Linked DNA regions of Homo sapiens: regions 1 and 2 are each linked to region 3. The links come from fine-mapping of genetic effects on gene expression. A gene starts in region 3. Each other region holds a variant in brackets. All regions are shown on one strand. Distances are from middle to middle.

Region 1 (8,178 bases), 86 kb before region 3:
ATGACAGCCTAGTAGTACCCAACCTTGATTCACATGCTGGGGTGCAAATGAGTGAGAAGCAGCCTCAAGAAGCTGATGGTGTCACCCAACTGCCCTTGGGAGGGGTCCACTGCAGCCTGGGGACAGAGGGAGGTCAGAGTCACGTCCCACCTGCTCTGATAACTCTGGCCCCAGGCACGTCATTGTACTGTGGGATGGAGTTTCAGGGTGAGGTAGGCGGCTGAACGGCACCATGTAAAAACCAGTTTGTGCCTCCAAACCAAACTGGCACTCAGACATTAGCTGTTTGACCCCTGAATGCCAATGAACTCATCTTGGCTACCTGTGTGTAAACCTTTCCCTAGCTTTTGTCTTTTATCAGGAGAAATCTGGCAGAATAGTGGGGGTTCTTTTTTTTTTAACCTTTTATCTGGGCTTATTTGTCCAAAACTACAATAGCAGGGGGCCTTTAAAGCCTAATGAACGCAGGTTACAGAGTGGCCTCAAGCAGAAGGAACGTCTCATGTTCCATCTCTCTGAATTAGGGGCAGGAGGCCAGCTGGGGCTTACCATCTTTCCATTCACATGCAAAGCACTTCCAAAAGCACAAGTTTGAAAACTCAGACTCCTGAAATCAAATCACTCATCTCCTTCACTTCTAAAATCTCTGTCTCAGTAGTGGTTACATGATAGTACGGTACACTTGGGATTTGGGTGGGGAAAGGGTATTGTTTTAGGGTTTTGATGTCCAAAGAATTTGTATTCCATAGCCATGTGTATTTCTTTTTTACAAATCCTTTGAAATAGACTAAATACCACCTTTGGCAGTGGTTCATCAAAACACGGACAAAACAGTACGGTTGAGGGTGGATTTATTTAGATGTGCAAATGGCATTCCAGAAGCCCCTTTCATCGAGGTGTGTGGATGTGCTGGGTGCTTGCAACCTCAAGGCTGGGCAGAAATACATGTCCCTGAATTCACAGTTCACAGCTGTACAGTGAGCCCATTATCAAGGGAGTGACCCAGGTACTGGCTGCAGAGAATGGAAACTATTGTTCCAAAGGCAGTTACACTGAACTTGAACTTGCTATTAAACGCATACGTGCACACACACACCCAAGCCCATCATCAAAGCCTATCAGCTCACACAAATACCAACCAGAAGCATGCGTCCCTGGCACTTCCTCTAAGTGACGACAAGGTCTGAGGCTTGGGTCCAGGAGCTGCCCCAATGCCTTTGTTTTCCTTCCCCATGTCAACCCCAGGCATCCTGAGACTAGCTTGTTTTCCTGCGTTGCTGGCAAGTATCACTTAGAAACAATACAGGCTTTCTCAGAAGGATTTTAAACATGATTCTGTTTTTCATGGCCTTATTGGCAATGGAGTATCATCTCTGGAACTTAAATGGTGCATTTCCAAGTCCTGAATTTTCTTCCACTTGATGGGCCTTGGGAAGTCTAGTTACGCTACAGAAGCAAGGGGAGGGCAGCAGGAATGGCATTCGGGACCGAGATGCAGGAAGAAGCCCTGAGTCTGTGTTGGGAAGAAGGAAGGGGGAGGAGACCTGAGCTACCTTAAACCCTTTGATAACCAGGCCACGTGACTCAGGGCAACCTTCCGTTGCTGTTTTGTTAATTTATTTAAAATAGGATGACTCAGTAAAACATTTTAGATGTAAGTCTCAAAGAACTGAACTTCTCCATTCAGGACCTGGGGGAAGAGCAGGTCTTAACTGAAAAGTCGGGTGCCAAGGAGCCAGGGAGCATCTGTTTCTTCCTGATAACTCCCCTTCCACTGAGAAACTGAGACAGTCAACGAAAGTGCTCCTTCCAGAAGCAGCCCCGCCTCTGTGTGTGGCATTTCAACTACAACGCATCCGCCAGGAAAATGCTCCAGTTGATTTCCATTCAGGGCTGGATAACTTTATGACCGCTAATTATATCTGCAGCCACACATGGAGATAGGCATAAAAATAGCCTTTTGTCCTTTCATTAAAGGAACCTCTTCAAATATTAACTTAGCAATCTCCTCCACAACCCCCCAGAGGTAGTAGGCGGGTAGCAAAGTTTTCATATTCTGATTTTACAGAGTAAGATACTGGGGATGCAGGGGAGGCTGGTGCTGTGGCTTTCTCCAGGCCAAGACTATACCTTCAAACACCAAGTGGCTGATAAAGACTGGTGTTCTTGAAGTCACCCCTTTTATTCCACAAGACAGACCCCAAGTTTTGAGGGCACGGTCTATGTGTAAGGCCTCGGGTCCTAGAAAGACGAGTGACGGACATGGTGTTAGAGCCCAATACATATTTCCTGTTGTGGAAAATGTCTTATCCATGCACCCCTCTAAGTGACATAAACACAAGACGTTTGTCGTACGTGTAAGCCTAAGGATGAAAACAGGAAAGACACAGAGTGGGGTGAACCTTGCTCACAGCAGAGAAGGAAACCAGTGGCGTGGCTAAAATACTCCCCCTCCACAGGGAATGCTCCCAACACAGAGGAAGACAGACATTTGAGATAACGGATATGCTTACAAGAAAAAAGACCCCCTTCATAGCACAGAGAATTGGGCTCAACTTGTGCCCAACTTGTGCCCTTGCCTCTTAGTGCCACTATGAGCCAAGTAAAGGCATCTTCACATTCAGTCTTCATTTCCTCCACATGAAATGGAGATGAATGCCTATTCTACAGCACAAGTGTGATGAATGAAGACGGGAAGTCATGCAAAACGCTCAGCACGGGCCCCTGCTCAGGCGAGCACTCAAGAGAAGAAGTCAACTGAAGCCTCACAGTAAGAACCTCCACGGTTTCTTGTGGTCAACAAGGGAAAACATTTTGGTCCCCAAAAAGAAACAATCCTTTGTCAGTCCTATTCCGTGATTATGCTCTTTTAAAGCAGACACAGACAAAGCCAGGAGTGATGCCCCTTAAAAATTTAACTATATATCATATTCATTTATTATCAATCCACAGGAAAATCTGATTGCTACATGAGCTCATAAAAGCTTTTTTCACCTTTACAAAATTAAAAAAAAAAATGTGCCACAAGGATGTAATAACAACTGCTGATAAACAAGAAAAGGAATCTTAAAATTATAAATTTGCTGTAGAAAAGATAAAAAACAATTATATTTTATTTAGAATTTTACCTTGAATAAAATATTCCCCTGTATAAAAAATAAAAAAGCTTGCTCTGGTTAGAATTAGAGTATTTTTGTCTTCAAATCTGGGAATTTGCATAATATTTCCATGATACTTTTTCCTTTGTACCGCGTGGCATTCAAGCATAGCAGATTAGAAGGATTTTTTTTAAAGCAGTCTGAAAATGGGACATCTGTAGAGAAATTCATTTCCTTCTTCTCCTCCGGATGTGGAATGGAAGCTTTGAGGGAAGGAAAAGTAGGAAAAGAG[CGGGAT/C]GGGATGGGATGGGATGGGATGGGATGGGATGGGATAGGAAGAGAGGCTGGGGAATGGGCAGAGAAGGGGGTGCTGAGTGTGCTGTGAGATAGAGCAAGATCACAAGAAGGCCTATCTGTAAGTGCTTTAAGATAAGGTGCAGAAGCAGACTGCAATGTCGCTAGTGCTGCCTATGTACATATTCACAAGAATAAAAAATTCCAGCTAGTTCACATTATCTCGTCCGTTCTGAGGCATCCACTCCACCTTGCTGGCCTTGACCGCAGGCAATGCAGCACCTCCACTGCCCTTGTTGGTCCTTGAACTTGAGTGAGTAGCCCTGGGAGATCCAGCAGGCTCTAGAAACACACGTCTACCAATGGGCTGGAGTCCTGAGTTAAAGAGAAGCTCCAGTACTGGAGTTGGACACAGCAATCAATGTTCTATTGTCAAGGCTTTTTCCCTTAGATTTGTCTAAAATAGGTGTCAGAGAGAAAAAAATAAAATACAAACAAACAACAAAACAAAGCCAAGAAGCCCCAACAACCACCGCGGAGAGTCAGAGGCTTAACAGCTCTTGACGCGGGCCTGGGTGATATCCGATGTTTTCTTGATGACGCTGGCCCGGGTCTCCCGGTCTGGCCGACTGCTGCTGGATGCTGGGGTCATGGAGGAAGAAAGGGGGAGGTCTTGAAAAGGGGGCCAGGAGCTGTTGTAAGGCACCGGATTGCTCTCCTCTTTGATGGTGACCTGGAGGTCCGGTTTGTTGGAAGTGACGAAGGACGCCATGCCGGGCAGCAGGTAGGAGCCTCGAGTCCCCATGTTGCTGAGGTACTGTTTGCCTTCAATATTCCTCTTCCGCCAGTGTGGCCGCCCCTTTCAAGAAAGTAATTAAGATATGTATTTCCTTCTCCTTCTATTGGATGGCTTTTTAAAAATGCATCACTGGCCAGGTGTGGTGGCTCATGCCTGTAATCCCAGCACTTTGGGAGGCTGAGGCTGGAGGATCACTTAACCTCAGGAGTTTGAGACCAGCCTGGGCAATGTAGCGAGTCCTCATCTCTACAAAACGTAAGAATTAGCTAGGCATGGTGGTGCACACCTTTAGCCCCAGCAACTCGGGAGGCTGAGGCGGGAGGATCACTGGAGCGCAGTAAGTCAAGGCCTCAGTCAGCTATGATTGCGCCACTGCACTCCAGCCAGGGCAACAGAATGAGACCTTGTCTCAAAACAACAACCCACAAAAAAAATTTTAAAATGAAAAATGTGTCGTTCCCATGTGTTGGTGCTTTAGCTGAGTTTCTTAAGAACTGCAGAATGAACAAAGGCTTAGCACCTCTACATCCCTCAACTGAAATCTATTGCACCCAGCTATTCATATGCCAAGTAATGGTTTTTCTTCCCTTTTCTTTTTTTTTAAAAAATCAATTCCCATTTGCTACCTCCCAGAAATACTTTCCAGACTACTCTGTGAAGGCAGGAAAAGAAGGCAGCAGCTTGGTTTCTGGTTCCCTTGTGCTCTGCGGCTCGGCCCGATTATTCGATAGGTTTCAGGTCACCATGGCCAGTGTGGCACAGCGACTCGGTCCCTCAATGCTGGCCCAGTCAACCTGAGCCAACCTGCATTTTCAGAGAAAAGGCAGCGAGGAACTTAGTGACAGGCAATGAATGCCCCTTGATTGCTTTCAAATGGGGGCGGCTTAGAGCTCCACGGTGTACAGCAAGCAGCGGCCTCAGGGCTGGCTTCATTCAGAGAAGTGGCTAGAGCTGCAACCTTGAAGAAATCAGGCCAGGGTGTATGGGAGCGTGTACATCTGTCTTTTCAGAATCCCTGCACTTTTTCTCAAAGTGTTTAGTACATGGGAAACCACTAATTCAAACAACCATGAGCTTCCCTCTCTCTTGCTCCCTCCCTCTCTCTCTCTCATTCACTCAAGCGCAGACCCCCAGCAGGTGGCCAGCAGGAATGCTTTCCATCTCCATTCCAGCCACTTTCTGCCATTGTGCACGCCCCATCTATGGGAGGGAGAGGGGACGGGACCCACTCGGAATCGAGATGGGGCACACAACCAGCTCTGGGCACGGGTCACAGCGGGAGGGAACCCACGCACACGTGGAAGAGGCTTTTGCTTAGCATTTTGTGACGTGTACTGGTCACTGCTTTTGGCTGGGAAGGCTGCTCTATTTTTGCCGGTGAAGTAGGATGTTTAAGTGGTAAGAGCATCGGCATTTCCCAGCCTCCACTTCAATTCCCTTTTCCTGCTATCACAGCTTCTCTACCTGATGGTAACATTTAACTCCCTTTCCTCCTTTCAGTTCCAACGCCGAATTTTATAACCCCAAACCCAAAAGTATGGTAAATTCTGGTGATGCATATTTCACCACACAAGAAAATCCCAAAGTGAAGCTTGTGATCTAAAGGAAAGGTGCATAACCAGCAGCAAGGAAAGCCCGGAGCTGGTCGGGAGGCTTTTCCTTGGCAGCATCGTGGGCAGGCTGGGCAGTGGCTTACCTCGGCACTCTCTTCATCGCTGGGCACACTATCAGTCGTTTCGCTTTCTGTTCACAGAGAGAAAAACACAGGGCCATCATTCCTGTCCCTCAAGCTGTCCCCAGGCTCAGGCAGTGTTTATAAAAAGGAGACTGAGTAACTAAACGCATCACCTCCCTCCCTTTGTAAAGCGAAACATTCTACATGGGAGAAGCTAGAGTGAATTTCAACTCTGTAATCTTCGGAGAAACCAGGCTTGAGAGCTGTGAGGAGGCTCCCTTGGCCAGGGCCGGGCTGTGTATACACTGGGCACTACCTCCCAGGAAGGGGCGCTGGTCCCTGGGGCCCTCCTCACTGCAGCTCTGTCCACAATGCCCACATGGGTCCTGTCTTTCAATCCATGCCAACCAATTCATTTAATTCCCAGTGCAGAGTTGACCGTTTCCAAAAGGTCTTCCTACATTATCCCCATCCCACTCAGATCCTTCCTTTACCTCTCACCCCTTTAGGACTTAGATCCTGGATTTCTAGAGTTGCATCTGCCATGTGGGTTACTGTAGGTGGACAGATCTGGGGTGCTCCCCATGATCCTCACCTCCTTGGATTCACTTTCTTTGGGATTGCCTCCCTTGAGTGTGGATGGAATGTGTCTGCTTCTAACAAATAAGATACAGCAAAGGGGATGAAATGGATGTGATCCTGTGTCCATGATCATGTTACATAACTCAGAAACCTGCTGGGAGAGGAAACACTCTGCCTTGCTGGCCTTGATAAAGCAAGCAACCATGTTGGGAAGGCTCCTATGGCAAAGAACTAAGGACTGCTTCCAGCCAACAGCCAGCAAGAGACTGAGGCCCTTAGTCCAACAACCTGCAAGAAACTTAATTTTGCCAAAACCACATGAGCTTGGAAATGGACCCTTCCCCAGTTGAGCCTCAGATGAGACAGCAGCTGTAGCCAACACCTCCATGGCAGGTTTGCAAGACTCTGCAGCAGAGGACCCAGCTAAGCCACGCCTGGATTCGTGACTCAAAGAAACTGTAAGATCCAAATGTGTGTCGCTTCAAGCCACTAAGTTTGTGGCTGCATGGCTATGGCAGCCAATCAGTTGCCATCCCCATTTGGCCTGCCAGCTGTGAGACACTGGGCAAGTTTCTCACCTTTACTGAGCTGCAGTTTTCTCCTCTGTAAAATGAGGGCACTGCCACCATCTAAGAGGATTACATGGAGAGTGAGTGAGAGGGTACATGGGAAAGGCCTAGCAAGGGCCTGGCACACAGCACACACTCCATACATCAGCACTGCTTAACACTGGGTTTGCACAACAGGCTGGATTAATGGAATCGAAGTCTAGTGATTACACATGACCTATGCTTATAAAAAGCTTTTTAAACGTAAAAACATTTTGATTTTGTAAAATAAAATATCAATGGTGTGCGATTATTCCAGTGTCCATAACCATTGAGAAATGCAATCACAGAGGGCAGAGCCTGTGCAATATTTAGGCATTTAGAGATCACTTAGCCTGAGCCATTCGTTTTACAGACAAGGCCTAAAGAGTAACTGCAATAGCTTCTCTTCCTGATGGCAACCTTTAACTGCCTTTCCTCCTATTTAGTTCCAATGCTGAATTTAATAACCCCATACCCAAAAGTATGGTAAATTTTAGGTGACGTATATTTCACAACACAAGAAAATCCAAAAGTGAAGCTCGTGTTCTAAAAGAAGCAAACATTTAGGGAGCCCTATGGGTCAGTGCCATGTCAGAGGCTTTGCATGCAGGTCTCACAGGGGTCCCACGTCAGCAAGCAGCTGCTCTCATCCCCCGTTACGCAGAAGAGCTCTTATGCTCCAGTGCCTTCCAGCTTTCCACCCGGTCCCTGCTGAGGGGCTGGCCTCTGTCTCACATCTTCCTGGTGGCAGAGCTGGGATGAGATGGCTCCAGCCCAGACAGAGCCCTTTCTTCCACTGAGAGCATTAGCCCCAGACCAGGCTCTCTATCAATTAAAGGCAAAAGAACAAATGGACAAACTGTGCCACAGGTGCATTCCTTAAACAAGGAAAGTAAGAATGTGGACTCCACTGGTCCCAGCCTGGAGTCTCTGGGCCTGTTTCTCAGCCACTGTTCTCCAGTAACTTCACACAAACCTGAGTGATCGCGGTGGGCTGGCCATGAGCATGCAGAAGACAGATCTCTCCACTCCTCGGACTGGGCATGTTTCCCCAAAACACCCCGTGCTGGGAGCCACAGAGACCCAGAGAAGCCCTCAGCCTCAGCTGACGACGATCCCAGCTATGAAGATGAGCTGACG
Region 2 (8,178 bases), 140 kb before region 3:
TGCTAAATAAACAGTAGCTTTTAAGAGGGAATGCCACAGACACAAAACTAAAGAAACCACTTCTCTTCTCCTTAAGTAGCTTATAGCCTTGGAAAAGAGCTAAATAACAATGGAAGTAATGTGTACTAAAACAAAAAAGTAGGGCTTCAGATTCATGCATCTTGGGTATAATGGGAAATAGAATGTGCCACCCCCAAATATGCCACTTTGGCGTAAGAATTGTTTTGAGCTGAAGGCAATTCGCTGTCTGCCATCCCCTATTCTGTCTAAAAACAGGACATAAATTTCCATTTGTAAGGGTGTCTCCCTTTCCCATACCAGGAAGAGAAATACTCCAGAGACAACTTTTAGCACCTGAGGCGACTCTTATCTGCCTAACAAACGTTATTAAACAACACTTGTTTATTATACATTTTCTCCCTTCACCTTCCCATAACTTACCTCCCATCTCAGAAGCCCAAAATCCCCTTTCCTTTGTCCAGCCTAAGATGGTTTATATAAGCTCCAAATTCTAAATGCCTCTTCGAATCACATTTCGTTGTGAATTCCTGTGCCAGCATACATAATTGTATCTGTTATTCTCTCTTGGTAGTCTGTCTTGTGTGAATTTAATTCCTGGGGCCCCCAACCACTGAACACAGGAGAGCAGAGAACAAATGTTTTTCCTCCCCTACAAGTATAATTAAAAGTATAGGAGATCTTGCAATTAAGAATTGGCGTCTGAACCAATATTCCCAATCTCTAATCTCAAACCTATTTTTTTCCTCCTGAACTGATGGTATGTTGACCTAGAGATGATAAAGGCAAAGTTATTTAGGAAGGTAACGCTGGCAGCCAGTTGGGTGGAATAGCTGGAAAAGTTCCTTTAAGAGTGAAAGGATAGGCCAGGTGCAGTGGCTCACTCCTGTAATCCCAGCACTTTGGAAGGCCAAGGCAGGCAGATCACCTAAGGTCAGGAGTTTGAGACCAGCCTGGCCAAAGTGGCAAAACCCCGTCTCTACTAAAAATACAAAAATTAGCTAGGTGTGGTAGCACATGCATGTAGTCCCAGTACTCAGGAGGCTGAGGCAGGAGAATTGCTCAAACCCAGGAGGCAGAGGTTGCAGTAAGCCGAGACCATACCACTCCACTCCAGGCTGGGCCACAGAGCAAGACTCTGCCTCAAAAAAAATTAAAATAAAAAAAGAATGAAAGTATCCATAATTACAGGTAGATTATCATCAGTTTTCTATTTTTGCTAGATGTTGAAATTAGGTGTATTGAATAAAATACATGGGACTTAAAGCCTGAGTAGCTTCTTTCAAATCCCAGCTCTGCTGCTTAGCAGCTGCCACTGGAGAAGTGATTATCCTCTGAGCTTCATTTTGTTCATCTGTAAAACCCGGCGACCAGCACATAGGAAGAACACAGCAAATGCTGGTGTCATTGAACATGCAGATAAATGAATGATTAACAGTCAATGAATTGAAAACTGTTTACCAAACCCAGGCTTGGAAGATTCAAAACAGAAACAGTGGTGTTGACAGAGCATTATATTTTAATGGATGACAGTAAATAGAAAAAGGGGGTTGATTCTGGAAAAGCGGAAAGAGCTTCAGAAATACTGGGAAGCTCCTGGCTTTTGGCGCTCCGTCTTGTTGAAATATTTAAGCCTCAACATACTTTCTCAACCTCATTGTTAGTGAAAGAAGGAAGTTCTATTAAAGAGAGCAAGAGAAAGACCATGCCTCAATAGCCAGAGTAAATCTAGTTTCCATCACACTCAGGGTGACCGGTTGGTCAAGGCAAAGCAGCATGGATGCTCCTGATGTCAGGATTTTTCTGTCCTGACCTGAGATGCTTCTGGGTGAACCCATCAGACAAGATGCTTTCTCAGACTCAAGTTCAACCACGTGGACCTCAGAGAACGTATAGCATAGTGTTTGTTGTTCCAGCTAGTACCCAGACAGGAGTCACCTGTGTGCATGTCTTTGCATGCATCGCCATGGGGGTTTTCCCAGCTCTGGTTCTCTAGTTCACTCGAATGAACACAGGAGGGATCACAAAGGCCTGAAGAATGTGTGTTCTTTTCTTCTGTTTTCCTGCACAGGTGCTAGTGTATTAAAAGCAAGAGCAAAGGGGCAGCCTGATGGCTGACGAGCTGATGAACAAGAGCAGCAGGTGTGTCCCCGCTGTTCCTAGAGAACAGTATGGAGAGTGGATCTCTCCATCACCCCCTCAATTCCCAATTACATCCCAGTTGTCCCATCCTCAGTCCTGAGGGGCTTTCTTAGTTGAGTCATAAGGGTAACCTCCAGGATGTCTCCAGAGCTAGGAGGAAGTTGCATAATATCAGTGTTTTTTAAGTACTTTTAGAAAGCAGTGACATTCATTTGACAAAAAAATTTAATGTACAGTGATTTCTTTCACTTACTGCTGTTGACTTTTCATAAAAAGATAATCTAAGGTCCCTTCCCTCTAGGATGTATTTACAACCTCCTTGGGGAGTCAAACATAAAAATTAAATAAGAGCTATGGAAGGATTACACCGATATAATTAATTTTAAAATTAGATTGAGAGCAAAAACATTTATTGAGCATGTACTATGCTCCAGGTACCTGCATAGGCACTTTTATTTATTCCTCTGATTGAACTGTCCTGTAAGGCGTGGGATATTATCTGCATTTTACAAAAGACAGCTCTAGGCTCAGAATGGTTAAGTAATGACAGGGTTCAGGACATGCTACCCCAAACTGTGGTACCTTGACACACTGAATATCTTAAGCTGAAGGAATCTGAGAGATGGCACGTGCAAGAAGCTCCCTCTCACCTTTCCCCTCACCTTGCCTGCTGAATCAGGTCGTAAAACCTAAGAAGGATTTTCTGACCTTCTCCTGAAGCAGGTCATCGTAAGACCCTCCTGTGAGCGGTGCCCTCCCTAGACCCGGAGAAAGGGAACATCCTTATTTCTGAAGACAAAGAAGAAGCTGAACAAACAGGCCTTGCTCAGTTTCCCCCAGTTTATTCCCATCAGACCACACTCTTTCCCCAATCACGTTTCCGCACACCTGGCCACTTCTCGTCAAACCTGTTGTACAAAAGAAGCCAGGCTGAACTGTTTCTCTGGGTCATTTCCTTATGAAGGTTCCCGTGTCAAGTAAAACTTAGATTAACTAAATGTGTATACTTTTCTCTTCTTAATCTGTCTTTTCTTATATGGGCCTCAGCCCTGAACCTGAGATGGGCAAGGAAGATACATTTCCTCCCGTACCGTGACAAAATAAGTGTCTTCTCGTTCAGAGTTTCCGATTCCAAATCCAGGAGTCTTTCCACTACATCAAACCTAATGGTAAATATTCAAGCATGTACAAAAGAAAGATCCCTGTAGTTGAGTGCATCCAGAGAAGCGCCTTGGCTCTCCCAGTAGTACTGCTCTGACCTGAGGAAGAATAAGGCCTTTATAAGCACAACTTGGCTGCATTCCACTGGCATAAATCCCAATCAGACAGTCAACCCCCTTCCGCATCCCCATCCTCTGGCCTTTTGAGAAAAGGGATCTGCCCTCCTAAGGGAATGTTCATTTTGCCACTAACAGGGAGCTCTCTGAAAAACGCTGTTTGCTGTCCAGTCACACCTCTGTGGAATCTTTTAACACATGGCGATTCTGTGGCAGGATACCTGTGTTGGTTTTGTTTTCACAGAGTGGTCACAAAGCTGAGTTCAAGGTGAGAAGTGAAAACAATTAAATGAATGGTAGCTTTTTCCACATGACTTTTCACTGCAGTGACCCAGCCCGGTCAGCCCCCGCGCCCGCTCGGTGGCGTGCACTTCCCATGACACACACACTCGTGGTATCCATGAGTGCGTGTCAGGA[A/G]AGCAGAAGTGTCACATGGACAAGCGAGTGTCAACAAGAGATGTGCCTCCTCTACACATCATGTGGTTAATGTCCAAACTCACTCATCCCACAGTCACGTTTGACTCTCAGTTGATCACTCTTTGTTCATGTTGAGATTCAACAGGAAATATTGTTTTTACAGGGTCTGGAATTTTAATGAGTCTAAGGATTCCTGATGGTTGTATTGACTTTATTTGTGGGGTTCTCAAAAGGAATCTCACAGTGTAGTCAACAGCAAGGAGTAAGCATTTTCTTACTTACAAAACCAAAGTTATATGTGTGGTACAAAGATGAGAGACTGGGGCCAGGCGAGGTGGCTCACGCCCATAATCCCAACACTTTGGGAGGCTGAGGCAGGCAGATCACCTGAAGTCAGGAGTTTGAGGCCAGCTTGACCAACATGGTGAAACCTCATCTCTACAAAAAATGCAAAAATTAGCTGGGTGTGGTGGTGCACACCTGTAATCCCTGCTACTCAGGAGGCTGAGGCAGGAGAATCACTTGAACCCAGGAGGTGGAGGCTGCAGTGAGCCAAGATCACACCACTGCACTCTAGCCTGGGTGACAAAGCAAAACTCTGTCTCAAAAAAAAAAAAAAAAAAAAGTGAGACTGGGAGCAGAAAGCAAGCAGTACTCACGCCACACTGCTGGGCAGTGGTGCTTAAAGAAAGCGAAAGAACAAACAAATGAAATACCAGCCTCAATGCAAAAATAAGCTGGAATGGAGGAGGTTTTCCATGCTTTTTGAAAGAGGCTGGGTAGAAATTGTAGTCTTGGGGGTTTTGTTGACAGCAAGAATTTCAGCTTTGCCTTAAGTGTTACTCAGAAGGTGAAATGGATTCAGCCAAACGTTACCATATAAACACAAACAGGCACATTTTGAAAACAGTTCCTGGAGTTCCAGGGAGCTCCCCTTTAATTCATCCCTAGCTCAATGCCGTATAGTTAGTGTTCAACGTCCTTCTAAGAAAAGAACTGAGGCGGTTTATTATTAGTGGTGAAGAACCAATACACAGAAATACAAAGGGTCATAGAAAGACAGTAAGCAACATTTCTGCTACAACAAGAGTCCGTAACCATGCTTTACTCCAGCCTCGGGGCTTCTGAAACCTCCCTAAGCTAAGAAACACAAACACATGTATGTGGGCCCATAATAGATGTAGGTGAGGGCTATAGGTCTCCTCAGCTTCATACCAGGTGGTATGTTACAATGAAAGCAAGTCTCAGACGGAATTCGGCCATAAAATAAACATTTAGAAGCCAGCAGGCTCAAAAACGTGGTACAACCAGTTCTGTAAACTCAACCAAGTACTGGTGCTTTGTTCTGCTGGCACACTGACAGGTGCCTTACATAACAGATTCACTTAAGGCAGATGTGACAGTACTCGAACAGCATGATTTAGCTTCATGTCTAGTCAGGGTCAGGTGCAGGAACCTTTCTATGAGCTGTGGATACAAGTCCTGATTCAAATCCCAAACCAGAGACAGCATTTGGAAGGGCATACATTATCCACTAGGCTTTCTAGGTCATAATACCCTGTTTATGCAAGGAGATGCAATCTGATACAGTGCTTCCAGTCAGCCCATAATATTTTGAACAACTCTTACTTCACCAATGAAAATGACTCCTAAAATCCATTATGCCAGATAGCAAAGCTGTTGGTGTTCATTGAGGATAGAGGAAGTTCTTATAGCTGACTCTCTAGAGCAGGAGCTGCTTCTTCTTTTTTTTTTTTTTTTTTTGAGACCGAGTCCAGCTCTGTCGCCCAGGCTGGAGTGCAGTGATATGATCTCGGCTCACTGCAACCTCCACCTCCCAGGTTCAAGCGATTCTCCTGCCTCAGTCTCCCGAGTAGCTGGGAATACAGGCGTGTGCCACCACACCAAGCTAATTCTTTGTATTTTTAGTAGAGATGGGTTTTCACCATGTTAGCCAGGATGGTCTCGATCTCCTGACCTCCTGATCTGCCTGCCTCGGCCTCCCAAAGGAGGAGCCTCTTAATAGTCTTTCAAATTCCAACAGACCACCCCTGGAGTGTGTATATTCATTCCTGAATAGGGCTCTTCAATATTAACTCGCTGCTCCTGGTTGTCAATTAAAAACCCAGAGATAAATACCACTACCTATGCCAACATTTTTAACCATGAATTGGAACAGTGTAATATTTTTGCTGGGATCTTTGATTGTCTCTTGCCAGAGCCCAGACTGGGGATCCAGGCATACACCTGGGCTCAAGACTTAGGAAAGCCCTCTCTCTTTCCTGGCCTTACAGTCTGGAGTCTTGGTCAGAATCTGCCCATCTTCAAACAGTTATGGCTTTCTCTTCTTACCTGTGCCTTCCATCAACCTTGTGAAGTAGGTGACGGTTACCAGGGTTAGAGTTCAGTTATTTCAAGAGCTTATCAGAGGAATTAAGCAGCAATTTTTTTATTTTTTTGCTTCAAGCTATCAGTTCCAAGGTCAACATGATATCTTGATACTCTTAAATGCTCTGATATTTTTTGATTTGCTGTGAAAGGCACACAATATTAACTCTATTAATGCCAGACAAAATACCGTCATAAATACTACATAGGAAGGGCCCTTGACAAAGACAGTCTCAGTGACCAAACTTTAGAAGGCCCCTCTCAGCCCTCTTTTTAACAGGACTCATCCCTGGACCCAGGCTTCAGCCTGCCTAGTCCAGTTTTAGCAGGGATCCTGCTAAGCCAATTTAGTGAGAGTCCCTCAACCTTGACCTCTGACCACACTGGTCTGCCTTCAGCAAGAATCCTGTTAAAGTCAGTTTAGCAAGAATTCCCCTCCCCTTGATATTTTTCTTGGTAATTACTTCTCTTAATAATTTTCTACCCATCAACCTCCCCAGCCCCCATCTGATACTGACATGGCCTAAAAAACTTGAATATCATACTGCTGGACTGAGTGAGGGTTTTCGAAACTCTAGTTGAGTTCATGAAACTGCTAACCCATGATCAAGCAAAACAAGAATTAATTACATAGGACTGAATCAACTAAAGAAGGAGTATAATTTTTATGGCTTTTTGTTTGGAACATTGCTTGTTCTTAATGTTCTATTTTCTGGACATAAGGAACCCCTTTTCTTTTTCTCTTAAGTTAGCTATAATATGTAACAATTTAGTAGATACATTTCTATAACAAAAATGGAACATTTATCTTTTTTCCTAATCCTTCCATAATTCAGAAACTATTACTGAGTATTTTTATGTTCATGGTTGTATTAGTCTGTTCACACTTTGCCATAAAGAAATACCTGAGACTGGGTAATTTATAAAGAAAAGAGGTTTAATTGGCTCACGGCTCTGCAGGCTGCACAGGAAGCGTGGCAGCTTCTGCTTCTCCGGAGACCTCAGGAAACTTCCGGTCATGTGGAAGGCAAAAGGAGAGTGAGGCGCATCACATACTCAGAGCAGAAGGAAGAAAGAGAGAGTGGGAAGGTGCTACACACTTTCTTTTTTTTTTTTTGAGACGGAGTTTCACTCTTGTTACCCAGGCTGGAATGCAGTGGCACGATCTCGGCTCACGGCAACCTCGGCCTCCCGGGTTCAAGCGATTCTCCGGCCTCAGCCTCCCGAGTAACTGGGACTACAGGCGCCCGCCACCACACCCAGCTAACTTTGTATTTTTAGTGGAGATGGGGTTTCTCCATGTTGGTCAGGCTAGTCTCGAACTCCCGACCTCAGGTGATCTGCCCACCTTGGCCTCCCAAAATGCTGGGATTACAGGTGTGAGCCACCATGTCCAGCTGCTACACACTTTTAAACAACCATATCTCACGATAACTCACTGACCAGCACAAGAGCAGCACCAAGGGGACAGTGCTAAAACATTCATGAGAAAATGTCCCCATGATCCAATCACCTCCCCCTAGGCCTCACCTCTAACACTGGGAGATTACAATTGAACATCAGATTTGAGTGGGGACACAGATCCAAACCGTATCAATGGTGATATACTATTTTATATGGGTTCGATAAGAATCTGTCCTTTTTGTAACAGAACATAATTTTAAAAATTGATTAGATAATCAAGGCTTTGACCAAAATGTTTTATTTGAGAATAAGACATGGGGGTCCATTCCAAGATGGCCGAATAGGAACAGCTCCGGTCTGCAGCTCCCAGCCTGATCGACGCAGAAGACAGGTGATTTCTGCATTTCCAACTGAGAATAAGACATAAAATCACATATGAACAGACAGTTTTGAGGAACTAAGGTTAACTTTATGGAGCCAATGCATATGAAGCCCTCCCGGAAAGTCTGCCTGGTACCTGGATTATGGAGTT
Region 3 (8,178 bases):
GGAAGCAGAGGTTGCGGTGAGCTGAAAGTGTGCCACTGTACACCAGTCTGGGCAACAGAGCAAGACTCTGCCTCAAAAAAAAAAAAAAAGAAAAGAAAAAAAAGGTGGTAAAAGCAAAATACTACAATCAGCCCAGTGCACACCTGCAATGACAGATAATGAAGAAGTTGACACGAGAGTGAAGAAGATTCAGACTAAAGCACAGAGAGGCTTGGGAAGATTTTCTTATCTGACATAAAGAGGGAAAATACATTGGTCCAATCACTGTTATTTCCATATCATTTGGTCTCCATGGATACCACCTAACTTTCCTTCTGACAGGAAAAAATTCACTGACAATATCGGATTCCACTGTGAAATTTTTTTGATACTTTATATAAAAGTTATTCCATGTTTAATCTTTTATCATTATTTATATATGCTCAGAAGTAAAATCCCTCCTTGCTGGAAATTCTATGAGAAAGATAGTGTCTAATCCAGTCATGATTATCTGGCCTTTTTACACTAAGAATAATCTGATATAATTTTGAAAGTTAATGCCTTACACATTTGTAGACTGCCATAATTTATGCAATGTTCTTTCATATACAGTATCTCAATTGTTCATGAAAGCAACACTTACGAGATATAGTTAAAAATTATTATTATCCTCCTTACAGCTAACCCCAAAAGGTAATAACTATATTTTTTGTTGTTAATGGTCAGCTCACTCACCAGAACACAACCTAGTGTAAAGATGCTGTCTTTCTCGCTGTCAGTTGAGTATACAGAGGCTAGCACTGTGTCTGGCTTATAATAGATGTTCTAAGGATATTTATTGAGTGTGTACATAAATTCTCTTGTCTGCGTTAAGCCCTTTTTGGTATAAGGCAGATAAGGGAACTATAACCCAGATACTCCATTTAGATAGAGTACAGTGGTTTTTCACTATCAAAAGGATATTATGTGAAAATGCTCTAAAAACAACAGTTTTGTACGAGATGATGTTAAGAATAAAAATATAACATCGTTGGTAACATGAGAAAATTGATGCACATCAAATGTGGAGCATCCAAAGTGTCTATTTTTCCAGTAAGTTTAAACATCTTTTGCTCTGGTGCACTATTTGCCTAATAAAGTGTTTCAGAAAGTGGGATAAAAGTGGGACCATTGTTCATAAGGCTGTCAGAACTTCATGGCACGCATGTGTTTGCCATAATTTGCTTCCAGTTTGACTACAGATCCTTACTTTTGATTATGCTGACATTTTTACAGGTAAGTAAATCTGAAATAACTGGAACTTTCTCTAACAAAAAAATGACAACTCACTGAGAATGAAATATGTAAATGTTTAATTTTAACAAGCAGTTACAAATCGTAACAGACAAGAACTCTTGGATCTAAGAGACCAAAATGTAATTTCTTACATAACAGACAAAGTTACAAGTTATAATCGTTCACTAATTACAGTGAAATTCCGGACTTTGACACATCAATCAATAGATGTTCCAACGTTCCCCCTAGAGATCCCAGTTCAAGTCTTAAATATTTCATCTGCTGAAGTTTCCTCAGAAAAGGCTCCTTTTCCCAGGATTTTTTAGGTTTCTACTTTTGCCCCTTCTCCCACTAAAAGAAGAATAAAGGAAAGTTGGGGAAATCAGAGAATCCTGAATCTGCGTGCGTGGTGAAGTTAAACAGAGTCACCCTCTGGGCCTGGTAGGGATAACTGCATCTGCCTAGCATCAAGACTATCCACCGCCTGGTCTAACCCCAGACCCCGTTGTGCACCTGCCCTTAAGCACCAAAAACTGAACTGCTCAAAGAGAACCTGCAGTCGATATGAAAACTAGTAAATGACTGCAGGCTTGACAGCAGTCTCGGTGATGCCTGAAAATCCACAACAGGAAATCTAACTATCCTCCATACCTCCTGGCCATTCATCAAAAGCAGACCGAGTCACAGCCATAAGGAGGCCGGTGGCTGAAGACGAATGCCAGCACCACTTTTCCTCATTTAGAACAACTGAGTTTTTTCCTTCCATAACCAAGGACAAGGAGCAACCGGAGGGAGGAGGTTGAAGAGGGAGGGGGCGGGCAATATGTCCCCAAGTTTCAGACAGTAGCGGGTCAGAAACGAGCGAAAGCCACCTCGCTCTTCTGAGCTACCTCGGCCGCCAGTCCCCGGGATCACATCCGCAGCCGAGCGCCAAGGGTCCGGCCTACACAGACTGACCCGGGCGTTTCACCTGGTGCCCGACCACGGCTCTGGCGCCCTGCCCAGGCTGCCCGCCTCCTTCCCCTCCCCCGCTTCTTAGGGAACAAGGAGGAGAGGGTGGCAAACGCACCCAGACCGGGGGCCAAGGGGAGACGCCGGCGCGTGCTGGGAGGGGCATGAGTTACACCCGCGACCCTTGGAACTTGGAACGGCTTCCCCAGCCCCGGCGGACGCCGGCCCCCAGGCCGTGCCACTGGGAGCAGGCGGGCGCCGCGATTGGCCGCGGCCGGCTTCACTCGGTGGGCGAGCCCTACCGGCGAGGCGGAAAGGAAGTGGCGGCCGCCGCGGCTTTGCACCAACCATGTTCGGCCAGCGGGCGAATGTCACCCGGCGCCCGGAGCCGGGTCGGAGGGCACGGGGCGGGCACTCGCGTCCCCACCCCGCCGCGGCCCGCGCCCCGGGACCCCGAGGGGACGCCGGCCCCCACTGCGCCGCTCGGTCCCCGGAGGCTCCCCGCCCCCACCTCGCCCGCTCCGTAGCCGAGGCGGGTCAGGCCCAGCGCGCGAGGCCGGCCGGGGGCGCCTGCGGGGACCCGGGGGCGCACGGCGCTAGGCCGCGGCCCGGGCGGCTGACCCCTCGGCACGGTGCCTTCCTGGGACGCGCCGCCCGAGCCCCTGGCGCGCTGGGACAAGTGCAATGACAAAGCCCCAGGGCCCGACCGGGCGCTGGCCGGCGGGAAGGAGGACGCGGCGTCCCTTCTGAGCGGCGGCGGCGGCGGCCCAGCCCCCAGGAAGCAGGGCGCGTCGGCCAGGCCCGGCGCCCGGCCCGGCTCCGAGCCCGCCCTCCCGCCCCGGCCGCTGGCACCCGACGCCCGCGACCCGACCCCGAGCCCGGCAGGCAGGCGAGCCCCTGGACCGCCGCGGGGCGCCCCAGCAAGTTTCCTCTGGCCGTGGCTGGAGGCGCTCCTCCCGGCCGGGGAGCGGTGCCTGCTTATTTACGCTGGAGGCAGCCTGGAGAGGCGCCGCCGCGGGCACCGAGAAGGACCCGCTCCCCTCCTTCGGATCCGGTGGCGGCGGTGGCTGCACACACACACACGCGCGCACACACAAACACGCACATACACACAATTTTGTTTTAAATGAGGCCCGACTCCAGCTGACCTGCACCCCCACACACAACACCTGGGGCGCAGAAGCACACACAGCAGGTCTGTGTCCATGGAGCCACCTCTCCGCATCTGCAAATCCAAAAGTGAAATTAAACCTCCACCAACCTCCTCCTCCTCCTCCCTCTCTACCTCCTCCTCCTCCTCCTCCTCGCAGCCTCAGCAGCCCCAGTAGCAGCAGCAACAGCAGCAGAACCTGCTTCCCCTAAAATCAGATGATCCATAATTGCGCCGACTGTTCCTCCAAAAATCAGTATTAATATTTATGAACCCCGGCATTTTCCGTCTGCAAAACATCGTGTCAAGGCATCAGGACACGCATACACACACGGCCCCCCACAGTCCCCAGAAACATGCCCTCGAGAGAAACACACACAGTCACAACTATTATTTGAAAAATGTTACCTCTCAGTGTGCTTTTTTCACGCTACCAATACAATTCCGCAAGGTATAAGTGTTGCTAGGGTATGTGAAATGGAAATGAAAGCCCGTCAGTTGAATAATCGCAGGAGCAAAACTAAAAGTTACTCCCCGGCTTGCCTGAGAACAGTCCAGATCGAAAGCAAAACAAGGAGAGGAAACTGCGAAGAGCCGCGGCTGGAAATCCCCCCACCCCCCGCCCTCCTCCGGCCGCGCTCCCTCCCTCGCCTCCCCTCTCCGCCCTCCTCCCTCCGCCCTTCCTCCCCAGTGTTTGTTTCAAGCTTGTGCAACCGGGAGGTGGAGGCGGAGGGAGGGCGCGAGCGGCCCGGCCGGGAGGTGCGGAAGTTCGCCGCAGCAGCTCATTGGCGGGCAGCGCCGCTTTCATCATTTCTCGGAAAAGTCAATTTCATTTTCGCTTCCCCAGGTCGCGGCGGCGGGAGCAACAAGCAGCGGCTCGTGAGTCCGCGGCTCGCACCCAGGGGCGCCCGCACGTGCGGCTAGAACGTCCGAGTCGGGGTCCGGGGCGGGGGGCGCAGGCCCGCGGCGGTAGGGGAGGAGAGCGGGCACCCGAGTCTCCATCCTCAGGGTGGCCTGAAGGTTCCAGGAGGGCGTCCGGCGAAGGCACGGGGCTGCGACCATCCAGTTAGCAGGGCTGGTGTGACTGTTGAGAGTAAATGAAAATTCGTTTTGTGACACCGACCACCTCCAAGGAATGAAAGGAGCAGTCAGCCGAAACGACAGCATTACTTGCGTCCTTACCTAATTGGAACCTTATCCGTGGCTGAGGGTGCCACCATTGGAGGGGCCGCCGCCCCCTCTGACACCACCTGGCGCTCCGCTCCATTTAGGAGCTAGAACGAAAAGGAGGCCCATCCCCCAGTAAGTCACAGCCCACGCCAAGATGAGTTCTGGAGCCTGTGCGACCGAAGTTTCTTCACCGCAGGGCGAGGTGGACAAGGGTGTGAGTTACTTTGACTTCAAGACGTCTCAGTGGCGGCTGGTTCTGGAGAGAGGCTTTATGCTGGAGCACTTCCAGCAAAGTTCGGCTGGGGCCTCCTTAACTCACTGGCTGGTCACCCTTGGCCTCGGTTTTCAACCAAAGCCTAAGGCCTCAGTTTTCAACGCTGTAAATGGAAATAAATGAGAGAAGAAAGTACAGCCCGTGTGACAAGTGCAGCAAGCAATGCAACTTCCTTGGGACCTACCCTTTGTGGTCCCTTGCTTTAAAAGTATAGATTCACATTTAGTTAGACCTGTTTCTTCCTCGCATGCAATTTCACCAGTCTTTTCCCAGACTTCTGTACTCAACAGAGGAAGTTCCTTCCTGGGAGACCATAGCTGTTTGTATGTAAAGAGTTGCGAAAAAACAAAAGCAAAACAAAAAACTCCAACACCTCTCTGTCACAGAAGTATTGAATTATATAGACTGGAAAAATGGAAGTATCCAAGAAAACGCGTGTGGTAAGAAAATGGCTAAGGTGCAGGATTCTGTTTTGTGGCTCTGGTCTCAGAAATAGACCTCACATACACATTATTCCTTATCCCCTCTATTATAATACTCACTTTTTTTTTTTTTTAAGAGACAGGGTAGGCCGGGTGCAGTGGCTCATGCCTGTAATCCCAGCATTTTGGGAGGCCAAGGCAGGAGGATCACCTGAGGTCGGGAGTTTGTGACCAGCCTGACCAACATGGAGAAACTCCATCTCTACTAAAAATACAAAATTAGCCAGGTTTGGTGGCGCATGCCTCTAATCCCAGCTACTTGGGAGGCTGAGGCAGGAGAATTGCTTGAACCCAGGAGGCGCAGGTTGTGGTGAGCCGAGATTGTGCCATTGCACTCCAGCCTGGGCAACAAGAGCGAAACTCTGTCTCAAAAAAAAAAAAAAAAAAAAAAGAGAGGGTCTTGCTCTGTCACTCAGGTTGTGCTATCATAGCTTACTGTAACCTTGAACTCCTGGCCTTAAGCGATCCTCCTGCTTCAACCTCCCAAGTAGCTGGGACTACAGGCCTGTGACAGTGCCTGGCCCAGGCACTGACTTTCTTATGTCATATAGCAATGACCACTAAGGGAAAGTCTATACAAACTATAGAATAGTTGTCATTCTTTACCCAACCCGGGACACAAGTTAAAAACCTAGTATTCATTTTTTTTTTCCTGTACCAAAACAATCATCTTCCTTTATTTTTCCTGGAGCGGGAAGAGGAGAGTGGAGAAGAAGGGAAGAATGCAAAGTGTCACTTTGAACTTCTCGTTCACCACACACGTGGGAGTCCACTCATGTCAGCAGCCTCCGTGCACAGGCCCCAGGTGAAAGAAAGAATGAGGTCTAGTTGGACCAGCTAACACTGCCTGCCTTGTGTTTACGAAAGGCAGCTGCCTCTGTGGTGTGATTTCAGGGGAGCCAGACAGGGCCGGGGCCACGAACCTGCATCCTGCATCCTAAGCACCTATTGCCATGCGTGAGGCTAACTGGAAACTCACTTGCTGGGTGCAGATAGCTTCCAAACTATTGTGATGCTCATGCTTGACTTCCCAAGGAACGTGTTTCAGGAAAGGCCATTGCCCTCATTATGGTCTTTGATAAGCAGGAAGAAGTTTGTTGTTCCTTTTTTTTCTTAATGCCCTACTTCGTGCAACATACATCCAATCAGTCATATCCTATTGACGCTACCCCTAAATATCTCTGGGCCTGGCCCGTGCTCAGGGCACTGCCTTCATTCAGTTACTGCACTTGCCTGCTGCCTGTGCTCCTGGTCTCCTGCTTGGACTCCCCCAGGCCAGCAGCCACACTACTGCCAAAATCCAGTCGAAAATTAACTTCAGGTAAAGCACAATTCCAAACCTAACACTGCCCCCCTCAAAAGCCTCTCTGTAGCCTTCAGAATAAAGACCATATTATTTGACAAGACACATAAAGTCCATTGTAATCTGGCACCAAACGACCTTTCCAGCCTCATCTCCTGCCATTGTGTCCCACAAGCCCTACATCCCTCCCTTGCCAAACCAGCCTCCGCTCCTTTTTGTCAAACAACAGAGCTGTCCTCTTGTTCATTGTTTTATCTTTAGCATGGTGCCCAGCACACAGGCACTGAAATACTTGTGAATTAATAATTACTTGCTCTTTTCATCAGGCTCTCATAAAATATTTTAGACTTGATCAGAGCCTTGTTTTATATTTTAATAGCTTTTTAATATAAATGTAATTAATGTTTCTTGTACAGAATTTGGAAGATGCAAGAATGGTGAGAGAAGAACATAAGCCACCTGACATCTCACTAGTCAGGAATAGACCTGTGGATATTTTTATGTATTTCCTTCTAGTGATCTTTCTAAGGGACCGTTTCCAATCCGCATCTCCTCTGTCTGTGTGTAGGATTTAAGAATGCTGACTGTGCAGGCTGCTCTCCACGATGCCCATGTGACAGCCTGCTGTCCTATTCTAGTTCTTGGCCGGTTCCTCGTCTGCTGCCAGCCCCCTAAATTATGGTGTTTCCAGGCATTCTATCCTCAACCCTCTTATTTTCTCATTCTACATGCTTTATCTTTGGGTGTTCTCCTCCACGCCCAGGGCTTCAGATATCACTATTTGCTGATGACTCCAAAATCTGTAACTTCTGAGCTCTGACCACATTAACTCCTACACATGTCTCAGGTGCAACAAATTATACATGTCCCAAGTCAGAGAGAACATCTTTTCCACAGCCTTGCACTGTTCACTTCATTGATTAGCTGGGAAACTGGGAGGACTCACAGACTGCCCCCTTTCCTGAGTCCTGGGGCCTCCCTGAAGCATGGGTGTTGCTTGCAATTTTCCAGGCCCCTAAACTCATAAAACATAGACAGAATGAATTTCTGTTCTTAGGCCCTTGATGACATGTCACTGCAAACCAAAAATGTACAAATGAACCAAAACAGCCACATGGTACTGATATACACAGTCAAGAAGTATCTTAGCCCTTTGATGAGATGCATATAGTAATAAATCTCTGTGGAAACTCCAGCCTTTTTGGAAGCCTGGGTAAGAAAGTAGGCTCAGTGGCTCACGCCTGTAATCCCAGCACTTTGGGAGGCCGAAGCGGGTGGATCATGAGGTCAGGAGATCGAGAACATCCTGGCTAACACGGTGAAAACCCGTCTCTACTAAAAATACAAAAATTAGCCGGGCGTGGTGGTGGGCGCCTGTAGTCCCAGCTACTCGGGAAGCTGAGGCAGGAGAACGACATGAACCCGGGAGGTGGAGCTTGCAGTGAGCCGAGATCACACCACTGCACTCCAGCCTGGGCGACAGAGCCAGAGCGAGACTCCATCTCAAAAAAAAAAAAAAAAAAAAAGAGTAACCTTTGTCATACTGAGGAAATCTGACCAAACACTTCAGTCTAACGTGAAAAAAGTTGAAGGG

Which allele goes with the higher level. Alleles are on the strand shown, and positions count from the first base shown. SD is a standard deviation of normalised expression in the study named.
In carriers of allele CGGGAT in region 1, the expression in NK cells of the gene that starts at base 3,935 in region 3 tends to be lower than with C alone (moderate effect, 0.45 SD a copy in Gilchrist 2021).
For the expression in monocytes after LPS of the gene that starts at base 3,935 in region 3, A is the high allele of the variant in region 2 and G is the other (large effect, 1.1 SD a copy in Quach 2016).

What was found. PIP is the estimated chance that this variant, and not a neighbour inherited with it, causes the effect.
Region 1: its variant is fine-mapped to the expression of IRF2 in NK cells (Gilchrist 2021, PIP 0.95).
Region 2: its variant is fine-mapped to the expression of IRF2 in monocytes after LPS (Quach 2016, PIP 0.95). The same link has a PIP of 0.9 or more in monocytes, monocytes after R848 and monocytes after interferon gamma.

The regions. Positions count from the first base shown.
Region 1 is chr4:184,384,816-184,392,993 of GRCh38, forward strand. IRF2 (interferon regulatory factor 2) reads right to left here. Exons shown (of 9, transcript NM_002199.4): 8 at 5,888-5,934; 9 at 2,914-4,251. The coding sequence ends at 3,943. Among named protein-coding and RNA genes, the nearest start is that of LINC02362, 6.6 kb to the left of the region's middle. RefSeq lists enhancers at 1-39, 1,558-2,316, 4,322-5,055, 5,056-5,789. The variant CGGGAT/C (reference allele first, on the strand shown) is at 3,391.
Region 2 is chr4:184,326,364-184,334,541 of GRCh38, forward strand. No RefSeq gene overlaps it. Among named protein-coding and RNA genes, the nearest start is that of MYL12BP2, 16 kb to the left of the region's middle. RefSeq lists an enhancer at 1,642-2,201. The variant A/G (reference allele first, on the strand shown) is at 3,855.
Region 3 is chr4:184,470,616-184,478,793 of GRCh38, forward strand. It overlaps IRF2 (interferon regulatory factor 2), which reads right to left and starts at 3,935. Exons shown (of 9, transcript NM_002199.4): 1 at 3,764-3,935. It overlaps IRF2-DT (IRF2 divergent transcript), which reads left to right and starts at 4,187. Exons shown (of 1, transcript NR_186573.1): 1 at 4,187-6,689. RefSeq lists silencers at 2,194-2,263, 2,324-3,013, 3,094-3,143, 3,954-4,073 and enhancers at 4,104-4,293, 4,644-4,973.